2 linked regions of the Homo sapiens genome follow. The protein of the gene in region 2 purifies or fractionates together with the protein of the main gene of each other region. This does not show direct contact. Each region holds a gene or a part of one and is shown on either strand. Other genes may lie near its edges.

Region 1 (7,200 bases), on a different chromosome or scaffold from region 2:
GGCGGTTCCGTTCTGAAGCGCGGTCTGCTGTCCTTTTGGGCGCGAGGCATGTGGTGTTCGCTGTGAAGCCTCCTGGGCCTGTTGGTCCTCCGATTTCATCCTCGGGACATAATGCTTACCAACAGTACTTGCACTGAGTTGACACTCGTGCACTCTTGACTCCAGATGTTTTTCAAAATGTATGTTCACACCAATAATTGCCTACTTCAGAGGCTAATAAGACAAAACCAATAAAACTGAGTGATGGTGTCTGTATTGGGAAAAAAAAAAGTGTTCCATGTTCTTTCTCACCTACGTTTCTGCCCACCTTTCCCTCTAAAAGTTCCTTCCCCATCCCTGCCCTAGCCCCCCAATTTCTGCATTAGTCATGACTAAGCCTTCTTTAAGCTTAAGGACATAAAATATACAGTACCTAATACAGTGCCTGACCTATAGCAGAGGGTTAAAAATGGGCTGAGCTGGCTTAGGTCTCTTCTTTGTCCTCTCAATGACTCCTATTTGCTTATAAAATAAAATTGTAATTATTCTGATGGTCTGCAAGATCCATAATTTGGTCTCTGCCTATCTCCCCAGTTTCAGGTCTTGCCACCACCCTGTATTATACTTGCTATTTTTGCAGATGCTACTCTCTAATTTTAGACTCCCATGCTTTTTCTCACACTGCTCCTTCTACCTAAATGCCCATTCTTTCTATGCCTGTACACTCCTGATTTTCATCACCTTCTACATAGTTTTTCCTTACAGTTTCCCTCTTCTTCAGCTCTTTTCTTCACTTTAAGAAACTGACCACTATCTCCTTTGTACATCCACTGTACCCGCATATGTTCTTCAATCAAAACAATCTTGTACTTGTTGACAGTTAAAGTAAGAGATAAGGTTCAACTACCCTGAAGGCAGGAACACTGCCTTCTGTATCTTTAAGTCCTCTTCACCTGGTCACAGTACTTTCTACATAGTAATTCCTGTATTCTAAATAATCTGCATTTTTCCTTGTACCCTCTTATACAAACTAACATAAGTTTCTATCAGGGATCTTTCAAAACAGAAACAATATTCTTTTGGGTTACATGCTGGGCCCGATCTCTTCTTGCCAAGCAAACAACTATGCAAATATAACTGTACAAATTAAAGTTATTATGCACTTTCTGATACCACTTTCCTATTCTAAATTAGGGGAGAAATAGTCTGGATAAGATCCATAATTAGAAACAATATCCTGAAGAGAAAGCAAACTAAGTTGTATTACATTGTTTCGAGATACCTTGTTTAAAGAGTCACTTCTCAAAAGCTACTACTGTTGGCAGGGCGCGGTGGCACACGCCTGTAATCCCAGCGCTTTGGGAGGCCTAGGCGGGCAGATCACCTGAGGTCGGGAGTTCAAGACCAGCCTGACCAACATGGAGAAAATGTCTCTACTAAAAATATAAAATTAGCCGGGCGTGATGGCGCATGCCTGTAATCCCCTCAGGAGGCTGAGGCAGCAGAATCGTTTGAACCCAGGAGGCAGAGGCTGTGGTGAGCTGAGATCATGCCATTGCACTCCAACCTGGGCAACAAGAGCGAAACTCTGTCTCAAAAAATAAAAAACTAAAAAAAAAAAAAAAAAGCTACTGTTAACTAACCTACCCCACTTGGATCTACCAGATACTTTGAATGAGAGGTGGAAACCACTCTACTGACCTCCTTCCTACCCCTACTACCGCCACTCCAGCTTACAGTAATTATTTTCACAAAGACAGAAAGGAGTTATCAAATGACCACAATAACTCTAAAAACAGAAAGTGAGGTGATCTTTCTTATTCACAGTCCCACTTATTCATTTAGAAATGCTGAGCACCAAAACAAAACCTTATCACAAGTTCAGTATTTCGTTAATAACTGCCAAGTATAATGGAATACTCCCCAAAGTACTGCAGCATTAGAACATGACCACTCCACTAAATTAAAAATTCAGCGAAAGCTTTTCTAACAAGGCTGGATGGAGCACTAACTCAACGGCCAAACGGCTGCACTTCCTGTATATGCACGTTCAAAACACCTCGAATTAACATGCTAGGGACCTTGAAGAATTGTACTAGGCCTTGCTCAAGAGGAAGGCTTTGTAATACTGAATCCCAAAACTTGAAACAGCAGAATTACTTCAGGGAAGACGGAGGTGTTAAATATTCTGTAAAACCTGTTTCACTCTCACAACGATCAGTTTTAAAAAAAAGAGGGAGAACACTGACCTCATTAAGAGCATTCTGACAACACACATAGTTGAACATGAGTTGTGAAAAGAATTTTCAACTTCAGATCTGTCTGTCCATTCCCACTGAAACCTGAAGGAAGGATCGCAGCACCCAAAGGCGCCCACTGCTCAGTGCCAGCGGTGGGCGACACCAGGAGCCTGTCCTGGTCCCCTGGGTAAGCCCTGGAGCCTGGCCACTATGCCGGGCACGATCCACCAACCGTGAGGGCTGGGTCCCCTAGCCTCTGTCCAGGCGCCCCCCAAGAGCTTCCCCGAGGCCTGGGGACTCCTAACTCTCCACCCCCGGCCCCCGAGAGCACCACAAACGAGGACGCCACGAAGGGAGGCCCGTCGGCCAGTGGGAGGGACGCACGGCCAAGGGGGGCGAAAACTGGGGCGAAGCTTTCCGGGGAGGAACCCACGCCAGGGGCAGCCACGCCCCCCACCCCCAACTTCAAACCCGAGCGCTGCGAGCACCGAGCCCCACACGCTGCCTGACAGACGCGGGCGCGAGGCCGGCGCGGGAGAGGGTTCCTCGGGCACTCCAGGGGTATCGCCGCGACCCTAGCACGCGACCGCTCCCTGCGACTGACCTGTGCCTGCCGCCGCGCGACCGTCCGCCCCGCCGCAGCCTCCGCCTCCTCGCGCTCACGCTGCCGCCGCAGCCACCGGAGCCGCCTCCTGCGCTGCGCCCCAGGCCGGCCTCGGGCGCCCCATTCCCACCCCGCCCAGCCTCTGCCTGTTTACAATGATTGGGACGGAACGGGACGAGGCGGTCCAGCGCGCACGCGCATTCCCTCCTCCCGCCGCAGCCGGCTTCCCGGATCCTCCTCTCCGCTCAGACGGCTGAAGCCGTCAAGGGCAGGCGACCTGGGCTCTCGCGCGGGGCGCGCTGGGAGGCGTAGTTCCCAAGGCCCCGGCGTCCAGCCAGCCCGAAGGCCTCTCGCCAAGGAAGCAAACTACAACACCCAGGAGGCACCGCGCCCCCTTCGTCCCCAGGCTCGCTGAGGAGACTGAAGAAGAGCGCGAGAGAACGCGCCGAGGGCCAGTGCTCTGCAGGCGCCTGCGCAGTCGGTGGCCTTGCGGGTTTCGGGGACGGACGGCTTACCCCGGTGTGGTGCTGGCGAAGGTGGCTCGCGGGCATCTCCTGCAACGGCCTTGAGGATGGAAAGGGCTTTCCTCTCCACGCTCTGGCCAGCCTGCGCCTCAGCTCCCGAAGTTGAGAGCTTTCCTTGCGCCAGCGTGCTTTAGTCGTTCCAACCAGTTAAACCAGACTGGGGGCCGCCCGGCTGGCCGCTGGGTGGGGCGGCTGCCCCGCCTTCGACTGGGTGTGGGATTGGAGGAAAGAGCGCCGTGGGCCTGTAGGGATAGGCGGGAATAAACCTCTGTCGGGAACATCCACGGAATTCCTGAAGCGGGTGTGGGCTTCTGCAGGGCTTCAGCGCGCCCCCGGCTCAGCAGTTACCGAGCAGCCCCCGAGGAAAGCTGCCCAGTCCGTGTTTGGCTGGCAGTAGAGATAACTGAATTTCTTCGAGAAGCCTTTCACCCAGGCTTGTTGAGTTGCTCTGCTAATGCGTAGCGAAGGCTGGAAACGGCTTCAGCAGTCTTCGTGTTTTCTGAAATGTGGCAGTTTATTAGGGGAGAGGAGGGACTTGGAATAGACGACCCTACCTGTCACTCGCATTCCTACGTGCAGCACTCTGTGGCACTTCGTTGCCCGTTTAGATTGGCCGCTGCTATCCATCTTGCTCTCTGCTCCCACATCAGCTTTCCTCAAAGCGGGCGGTAAATTTGTCCCTAGTACTCTGCGCTCCCTACTCAGTAAAGTTCAACCCCTGGGGCCTTAGATTCATTCAGGGGCCTCCCACGAGTGGATACGGGATGGTCTGAGGTAGCCATTGGTCTTTGACTTTCGGAAAAGCCTTCTCATGGCTCCTCTCGCAGTAGAACAGTCTTCTCTGACCACTGGGTTGGGCAGGTGAGCATGGCAGTGACAATTCTCTGCCTGTGACAGCACTGATTCGGCCAAGGGGCAGGCACTGATCCACGCTGGGCCTTATGGAGGCCTTGCCTGAAGCTGCTATGTGGATGCAGGAGGGGAGCAGAGGGAGTTTTCTACTGAGGCAATTGCTGATGGACGTGTTTCTTGCAACATCGAGTGGCCTAGCCAAAGGTGAGGGTGTGAAAGAGAAGAAAGGAGAAATGGAAAGGGAGAAAGAGCTGGCAGAATGTAGACCGTGGTTTCATTTGGAGGGCATGGTTTGTGGAGCTCTTTAAGTGCTGTGAGCATGTGAGCCTAAGTGGGTGAGCCCACTCATTCATTGATTTATTATTTGGAGCCAATATGTGTGGATATTGAATGTATTTGTTGGCTGCCACTTGAGCATTTATTCCTTCCATTTAAGCCAGGCAACATAACCATTCCCTCTAGCAGCAGAGATGGTCACAAGCCCAGTCAGAAACAATGAACCCACAAAGACTGGGGCTGAGGCTTCCAGTAAACTGTAGCTTCCTTGCTCCTCTAGCATGGTGTAAGTATATGATGCCTGGAAATGTGGCAACCGTTTTCCTCCTATAAGGGGAAACCCTAGAGGGATGGGAGTTTAGAGGGACAGCAACAAGTAGAGCCTGGGGTTGAAGTCAGTACTGTCAAATGAATGCGGGAAAGATGGAGAAGAACCTTGTGTTTGGTGGCATGATTTGAGCTGCAGTATCAAACCTCACCTGTTTGATTCTATGGACTATCCTATAGACTATTCGGGATTGTGAGCAAGGCCATCTTACAGACTATCCAGAATTGTGAACCACAAATTTCCTGTACTGTTTAAGCCAGTTCATATTAAAATTCTAAAAGTCCTAACTAATTCAGTTGAATTTCTTTTACATGACTCTGAAAGGTCCTAACTAATACAGGTTCCTACGTAAAAAACTGTGGAAGGGACTTTTAGCTATGTCTGTGTGGCATAGTCAGCAATTCTCTGCACACAAAACCAGTATAAAATTGGATAAATTGGCAAAAACAACCATTTCAGAGCACTGGAAATCAAACAAATACAGAAAACAATTTGAGAAACATCTATTCTTCAGAAACAGCTAGCAGGGACAGTAGATGTCTGTGGCCTTCTGGCCTGAGGCTGCTTCTCTCCCACCCTGTTGCACCAGAACTGCAGTTTTGCCAGTGTGGGTAGGAATAGCCAAGAAAACTAGCAGCTTTGCTGCCAAAGGGATGGACTCAATTTGGGGCGGGTGGTCAAAAACCCAAGGCTTTGCCAACTAAAAGTGACAAACTCATATGGAAATGAACAGGGCAAACCCACAGCTGTGCTTACCTGAGGTTACAGTCCCAGGTGGGGCAAATGGCAAGCCAGTCAAAAATATAACAGGGAGATTTTAGAAATAAGAGTCATTGAAGAGTTATGGTCACACCACCTCACTCCAGCCTGTACTTTTCAACTCTAGAAATATCATCCTTTTTTATAGAGTCTACTTCCCCACAGAAATACTCTATTTGTTAATTACATCTCCACACATCTCTGACTGATTGGGAAACTATGCATCTGCCTGGGGTTGACCCAAGAGACCTGTTAAGTAAATCCAAGGGAGACTTGAGAACTGGTGGCAACTGTGAATGTATTCCTTAATCCACACACAGATCCATTAGCAGAGGGAAGAAGACTCCCAAATCAAGGTGTTTGAGTGCAACCACTGCCAAATCATTGACTAGCCACAGCTATGCAAACACAGGGACAAAGCCCAGAAAGTCAGGGTAAATATAAAAATGTGAATTGAAAAACAGAGCAAAGATACCAGCAGCCACAGGCCATATAGAGACAGATTTTAAATCTGTGTAAATCCAGGAAGATAAAACAACAACAACAACAACAACAAAACTAAGAAAAATAAAACATCTAGAATTGCTGCAATATATGAAATATCTGCTTTTCAACCAACAATCATGGTTTATGCAAAGAAACAGTAAAGTGTCACCCACTCTGAGGAAGAAAATAGCAACCAATAGAAACAGACCCATTGGGCTCAAATACTGGATTCAGAAGCAAACTCTTGAAAGTAGGTCTTATAATTATGTTTTAAAAAGTAAACATTTTTCAAAGAATTAAAGGAAAATATAATGATAATTCTTTAACATATAAAGGATATCAATAGGGAAATGATTCTATAAAAATGAAATTTCTAGAGTTGAAAAATATAGAAGAGAAATATAAATTGTATTACATAATCTCAGTGAAAGATTTGAGATGGCAAAAAAGGTGTACTTGAAGATAGAGAAATTATCGTATTCAAAAAACAGAAAAATGAAGTAAAAGAAGAGCTATAATGACACATCCATAAAAAAGAGGATATTTTTAGCAATAAGCCAGACTCAAGGACATAGACTGTAGCTTTAAATAGAAAAAGAAAAAACAGGGAATGTAAACTAGTACAACCACTATGGAAAACAGTATGGAGTTTCCTTAAACAACTAAAAGTAGAACTACCATTTGATCCAGCAATCCCACTATTGGGTATCTATGCAAAGGAAAAGAAGTCATTATATGAAAAACATATGCACACACATGTTTATAGCAGCACAATTTGCAATTCAAAAGATATAGAACCAACCTGGGTGTCCATCAACCAATGAGTGGGTAAAGAAAATGTGATATATATATAATATCTTATATAATATATATAATATATATGATATATCATATATTATTATAATATATATAATATATATATATATATACCATGAAATACTACACAGCCATAAAAAGGAATGAAATAGTCTTTTGCAGCAACTTGGGTGAAGCTGGAGGCCATTATTCTAAATGAAGCAACTCAGGAATGGAAAACCAAATACCGTGTGTTCTCACTTATACTTGGGAGCTAAGCTATGAGAATGCAAAGGCATAAGAATGATATAGTGGACTTTGGGGACTTGGGGCGGGGCAGGGAAAAAGGATAGGAGG
Region 2 (7,022 bases):
GGTGGATCACTTGAGGTCAGAAGTTCAAAACCAGTCTGGTCAACATGGTGAAACCCTGTCTCTACTAAAAATGCGGAAAAAAAAAAAAGCCAGGTGTGGTGGTGGGTGCCTGTAATCCCAACTGCTCGGGAGGCTGAGGTAGGAGAATCGCTTGAACCTGGGAGGTGGAGGTTGCAGTGAGCCAAGATGGTGCCATTGCACTGTAGCCTGGGTGACAGAGCGAGACTCTGTCTCAAGAAAAAAAGTAAAAATAAAGCCTATTTAAAGAAAAATATACATATATATGCATATTTGTATATATATGTAAATACATTTTAAATACAATTTAAGTAATACTTTAAAAAGAGATTTCCAGCCGGGCGCGGTGGCTCATGCCTGTAATCATAGCACTTTGGGAGGCTGAGGCGGGCGGATCACCAGGTCAGGAGATTGAGACCATCCTAGCTAACATGGTGAAACCCCATCTCTACTAAATATACAAAAAATTAGCCAGGCATGGTGGCGGGCGCCTGTAGCCCCAGCTACTTGGGAGGCTGAGGCAGGAGAATGGCGTGAACCTGGGAGGCAGAGCTTGAAGTGAGCAGAGATGGTGCCACTGCACTCCATCCTGGGCGACAAAGCGAGACTCCATCACAAAAAAAAAAAAAAAGATTTCCTGGCAGTAAGCGGTGGCCCATGCCTATAATCCCAGCACTTCGGGAGGCTGAGGTGGGCGGAGGAGTTGAGACCACCCTGGGCAACATGGCAAAACCCTATCTCTACAAAAAATAGAAAAAAAATTAGCTGAGTGTGGTGGCGCACCTCACAGTCCCAGCTACCTGGGAGGCTGAGATGGGAGGGTCATTTGAGCCCAAGGGGCCAAGACTGCAGTGAGCTGAGATCAAACCATTGCATTCCAACCTCAGTGAAAGAGTGAGACCCCGTCTCAAGAAAAAGAGAGGAAATCTATATATTATAGATATAATAATATGTATTTCTTTAAATGAATACTAGTTAAAGAAATACGTAAATATAAATATATAAGTACATATGATATATATTTCTTTAAATTTAAAGAATATTTAAAGAATACATATACATGCACATATTTGTGTATATATTTAAATCATTTCAAGTACAATTGAGTGAATACACTCGTGTATTAACGATGGGGATATGTTCTGAGAAATGCATCGTTAGGTGGTTTTGTTGTGGTGTGAACATCCTGGAGTGTGCTTACACAAATTGAGATGGTATAGCCCACCACTCACTGAGGCTCTGTGGCGCAGCTTGTTGCTGCTGGGCTGTAAACCTGCACAGTGGCCAGGCGTGGTGGCTTACACCTGTAATCCCAGCACTTTGGGAGGCTGAGGCAGGCAGATCACTTGAGGTCAGGAGTTTGAGACCAGCCTGGCCAACGTGGTGAAACCTCGTCTCTACTAAAAATACACTAATTAGCTGGGTGTGGTGACGCATGCCTGTCATCCCAGCTACTCAGGAGGCTGAGGTAGGAGAATCACTTGAACCCAGGAGGCGGAGGTTGCAGTGAGCTGAGATCACGCCATTGCTCTCCAGCCTGGGCGACAAGAGTGAAACTGCGTCTCAAGATAAAACAAAAAAACCTGCACAGCATGGGACTGTCCTGTAGGCAACCGTGACTCAGTAAGTATTTGTGCATCTAAACATAGAAAAGGAGCAGTCGAAATAAGGCATTAGAATCGTATGGAACCACTGCAGTGTGTGCGGTTTGTTGCTGACTGAAATGTTGATATGCGGGGCAGGACTGTATTGAAATAATACATATTATTTAAATTAAGTAATACATATATTTAAATAACACATATTCTTTAAATATGTGTATACTCTTTATATATACTATATTTATGGTATGCATATGTATATATACGTATTTATGACAAAACCATATATATATAGGCCAGGCATGGTGGCTCATACCTGTAATCCCAGCACTTTGGGTGGCTGAGGCAGGTGGATCACTTGAAGTCAGGAGTTCGAGATCAGCCTGGGCAACATAGTAAGACCTCATTGCTACCAAAAAAAAAAAAAAAAATTAGGGCTGGGCGAAGTGGCTCACTCCTGTAATCCCAACACTTTGAGAGGCCAATGTGGGCAGATCACGAGGTCAGGAGATTGAGACCATGCTGGCTAACATGCTGAAACCCCATCTCTACTAAAAATACAAAAAATTAGCTAGGGGTGGGTGGCAGGCGCCTGTAGTCCCAGCTACTTGGGAGGCTGAGGCAGGACAATTGCTTGAACCTGGGAGGCAGAGGTTGCAGTGAGCTGAAATTGCGCCACTGCACTCCAGCCTGGGTGACACAGTGAGACTCCGTCTCAAAAAAAAAAAAAAAAAAAAATTAGTTGAATGTGGTGTTATGCACCTGTAGTCCCAGCGACTTTGGAGGCTGAGGCACAAGAATCACTGAACCCAGGAGGCAGAGGTTGCAGTGAGCCGAGATTGCACCACTGCACTCCAGCCTGGGCTACAAAAAAAAAAAAAAAAAAAAAAAACAGAAACAGGCAAAATTAATTTTAATAATATGTCTCTATAACCCAGTACACCCAAATTATTATTTCAGCATGTGATCAATACTTTATAATTTGTATTGTTTTATTTAGTTGACACACAAGTTCTCACTGTGTTGTCCAGGCTGGTCTCCAACTCCTGGGCTCAAGCCATCCTCCTGCCTCACATGCGTGAGCCACCACGCCTAGCCCCTATAATTTTTACTGAAATATTTTACATTTTTTCTCCACACTGTCTTCTAAATCCCGTGTATGTTTGCTGTTGACAGCCCCTCTCAGTTTGGAATGGCCACATTTCAGGATCTCAGGAGCCACTGGCTGGCAACTGCTATATTGGATGGTGCAGCGCTAGGGTCCTCTTAGCACTGATCAGGAGGTGCTAATCAGAGGGGCTTCCTGGAGGAGGTGATACCTGAAGTGAGGCTTATGGGAGCTTCCATAGAAGTTGGGAGCAGGGACAAGACAGGATTTCTAGAGAGAAGGATGGCACATATACTTGCTTTCTCAGTCATTGACTCATTTGTTGAATGCACACCCCACCCTGCTGGGGACTACGCCCTGAAGGATGTGGGTCAGAGCAGATCTCTGCCCCTTCCATAACTAGACATTTATAGAGCACCTGCTGTATGCAGGGCACTGCTCTAGGAGCTCCCTCCTGATGCTTACAGTCTGAAGTGGGAGGAAGTTCGACAGTGGAGAGAAATAAAATTGTGACATGGTGAAATGTACCAGAGAGGACTTCTTGAAAAATAACTCTTTAAGCAGAATAATAAAGAATTGACTTTAAGGAAGTGAAACGGAACGGCCTTTCAGGGGTGGCAGGAGCCGAGACCCAAATGATGGGAAGATGACAGGGGAGGGGTGGCCCCAGGAAGAGGGCACAGCTTGTGTGAAGGCCCTTGAGGCAAGAGGATGTGCGTGTTCCCGGAGCAAAATGGAGGCCAGGGGGCCTGGATGGACAGTAGGGGTCTGAGGGGTGACACCGGCAGGGTTGCTGTGACAGGGGCAGAGGACTTGATGGGCCGTGGAGTGGAGCACCCCCAGCTGGCATCACAGAGCCCAGGATATGGAAACACGAGGGAGGCAAGAAGGCTGGAGGGGAGGCTGCTTCACTGACCTGAGCGAGCGAGCATGGGATCTGGATGAAGTGGTCATCGTGGAGGTGCTCAAGACATGTTCTGAAGGTCAAGTTAGGAGGAGGTGGCTGGGCACAGTGGCTCATACCTGTAATCCCAGCATTTTGGGAGGCTGAGGTGGGAGGATCGCTGGATCCCAGGAGTTTAAGGTCACAGTGAGCTATGATTGCACCACTGCACTGCAGCCTGGGCGACAGTCTAAGACCCTGTCTCAAAAATTAAAAGGACGAGGCAGTAGCCCGATTGGCGTGAGGATGTCCAGGTTCTGTTTGGAGGAGAAGAGGGAACGGTAGAACCTGTCAAGGGAGGGATGAAGTCTGGGGTGAGTGGAACAGGGACAGGAGAAGCAGAGAGGGCAGCCGAGAGCATCCAGTCGGATTGTGCTCTGAAGGGGGTGCTGTAGGGCATTGAGGAGCATGGAGGAAGCAGAGACCTGGCCTGCAGGATCAGGGGAGGCTTTCTGTGCTTATTCCACAAGCAGGTCCTGTCAGAGGTGTAGGAATGTCCCAGACAAATTGGGGAGAGGTTGGCAGCCAGAGAACAGGAGGCAGTGGGGACAGGCCACGCGGGAGAGGACAAAGCCATGGCTGTGGGGACAAAGGGGGTGAGGACAGCACCCAAGGGTCTGACCTGGTGACTGGGTGGACAGTGGGACCTTCATGGGATTGAGAACTGGAAGAGGCAGTGAGCTCAGTGGTAGGGGTGAGCACCCTGCGGCCAGCCAAGCTCTTTATTCATTCATTCATTCATCACATGTTCATCGCATGTGGGGAGTGGGGACAGGAGCTCTCAGGGAGCGTGTCTGGGGCCCTGAGGAGCCCCACAAATCAGGGGCCACAGTGGTAGGAGGAAGGAGAGAGGAAGTCAGGGACAGCCCAAGGGTGTGTGCTCTGTGCTGTGGGGCTCAGCCAGCGGTGGTTCTTCCCTCTTTGAAACTCCCAGCCAGAGAAGGGGTCCTGGCCTGTCCTGAGCCCCAGGGCTTGGGGGCGGAGAAGATCTGCCCTTCCTGCTGGGTGGGGCCGCGCCTAGGAAAGAGAGGGCAGGTGGCTGACTCCCCAGACCCCTCACTGCCTACCCTCCTCCTCCTCTCCCAGGTAAGAGCAAAGAGGCGGAAATTAAGAGAATCAACAAGGAACTGGCCAACATCCGCTCCAAGTTCAAAGGTAGGCTGGGGGCCCAACTTCTGGTTCTGAGGGAGGAGGGGGCTGGGAGCTGGGGCTCCTGTGACCTATCCTGTGACCCTTCCTTATTTCTGGCTCCCCTTTCCTCCTTCCTCTGCCCTAGGAGACAAAGCCTTGGATGGCTACAGTAAGAAAAAATATGTGTGTAAACTGCTTTTCATCTTCCTGCTTGGCCATGACATTGACTTTGGGCACATGGAGGCTGTGAATCTGTTGAGTTCCAATAAATACACAGAGAAGCAAATAGTGAGTCTGGAGAGGGGGGTGCCAGGGCCTGGACTCCTGGGTCTGCGGGGGAGGGGGCTGGAGGTCTGGACTCCTGGATCTGGGGGAGGAGGGGGTCTAGGGGTCTGGACTCCTGGGTATGAGGGAGGAGGGGGTCTGGGGCTCTGGACTGCTGGGTCTGAGGGAGGAGGGGGCTGGGGGTCTGGACTCCCCATTCTGAGGGAGGAGGGCTGGAAGCCCAGACTCCTGGGTCTGAGGGTTGAATCTGGGGCCTGGACTCGTGGGTCTGAGGGAGGAGGGGCCTGGGGGCCTGGACTTGTGGGTCTGAGGGAGGAGGGGCCTGGGGGCCTGGACTCCTGGGTCTGAGGTTGAATCTGGGGCCTGGACTCCTGGGTCTGAGGGTTGGATCTGGGGCCACTCAGTCACAAGGCTCCTAGCCATCCACGACCTCCCTCCCCACAGGGTTACCTGTTCATTTCTGTGCTGGTGAACTCGAACTCGGAGCTGATCCGCCTCATCAACAACGCCATCAAGAATGACCTGGCCAGCCGCAACCCCACCTTCATGTGCCTGGCCCTGCACTGCATCGCCAACGTGGGCAGCCGGGAGATGGGCGAGGCCTTTGCCGCTGACATCCCCCGCATCCTGGTGGCCGGGTAAGGCACTGGGGACCCGTTGGCAGTGGGGGGCCTGGGGGTGATGAGTCCCAGCCAAGTGTGAGGCTCAGAGAGGCTCTGTTGCCTGCCCAAGGTCTCCCAGCCGAGATGTGGGCTAACGCTGGGCTGGGGACCCAGTGGTTCCGGTGGCAGCCCCATACTTGTCTCTTCCCGTGATACGAAGCTGACTTGATGGTGTGAGGCTGCTCCCGGCAAAGCCAGTGGGGTGTTTCTGAACTGCAGAATTCTAACACCTACGATAAGAGGCGTAACTGTGCTATGTGGGTGACGGCCCTCCAGAACTTCCTCATCTTCTCCATTCATTCACCAAACATTTACTGAGCACATACTATGTGCCAGGCACTGTGCTGATTGCTGGGGATGTTGTATTGTCCAGAGATGGACACGGTCATTGCCCTCCTGTGTTCATGGTCTGGAGCAGGAGACAAATGGTGATGGAAGAATTGCAGGATGAAGTGTAGAATTTGCCAGGTGCGATGGCTCATGTAATCGCTGCATTTGGGGAGGCTGAGGCAGGTAGATTGCTTGAGTCTAGGAGTTTGAGACCAGCCTGGGCAACATGGCAAAATCCCAATCTCTACTAAAAATACCAAAAATTGCCAGGGCATGGTGGCGTGCACCTATAGTCCCAGCTACTCGGGAAGCTGAGGTGGGAGGATCTCCTGAGCTGGGGAGGCCTAGGCTGCAATGAGTTGTGGTTGCGCCAGTGTACTCCAGCTTGGTGTGCACACAGGTGAGACTTCTATTTCTGGCAGTGTGGTCAGCTAGATACCCGACTCATGTTCTCCCTGAAACCTAACTGTCAATATTGGATAAAAGAGGAAAGACAATATTATTTAATGGATTCATGAGGTAGCCAGAAAATGAGGAGCACACAGGCCACAAGCTAAGAGAAGCCGGGCACCCAAGCAGATGAGCCGCGTGCTGGAGCCAGCATTTGCTTAGAAGGCATTTGCTGAACTGGGTGAACCCGAGTATCGGTTTTGGGGCCCTGCAGCCTCTGGGAACAGAAGACAAAGCTTGTCCGAGAAGTTCTCGAAGGCTGTACTTCAAAGTGAGAGTGACCTAGAAATAAACCCCCTTGGGGACTATGAGGAAAATTACCTGTCTGAAACGTTGGCACGGAGCAGCCCTCAGACTGGTTTTCAGCCTGACTTTACCCTATCTGGGTAGTCCAAAAGCCCCTAAGTCAACCTTTAGTTTAAAGTGATGGAAACTGGAGGTTCCCTAGTGCTTCACAGAAGCAAACACGAGCCTTTTCTGAGGAAGCCCATTTT

What was found. The genes of interacting proteins can lie anywhere in the genome.
Region 1: the proteins of AP2A1 (region 2) and RALBP1 purify together in Homo sapiens (affinity purification with mass spectrometry; 5 studies listed by BioGRID and IntAct, with this or other methods). This does not show direct contact.

The regions. Positions count from the first base shown.
Region 1 is NC_000018.10:9,471,315-9,478,514, reverse strand, and holds the start of RALBP1 (ralA-binding protein 1), read right to left. Parts: upstream 3,003-7,200; 5' UTR 2,824-3,002; intron 2,821-2,823; exon of another isoform or gene 2,229-2,820; intron 251-2,228; exon of another isoform or gene 1-250. UniProt on the Homo sapiens protein: Multifunctional protein that functions as a downstream effector of RALA and RALB. As a GTPase-activating protein/GAP can inactivate CDC42 and RAC1 by stimulating their GTPase activity.
Region 2 is NC_000019.10:49,777,001-49,784,022, forward strand, and holds part of AP2A1 (AP-2 complex subunit alpha-1), read left to right. Parts: intron 1-3,404; exon of another isoform or gene 3,405-3,592; coding exon of another isoform or gene 3,593-3,710; intron 3,711-4,756; coding exon 4,757-4,825; intron 4,826-4,946; coding exon 4,947-5,089; intron 5,090-5,530; coding exon 5,531-5,724; intron 5,725-7,022.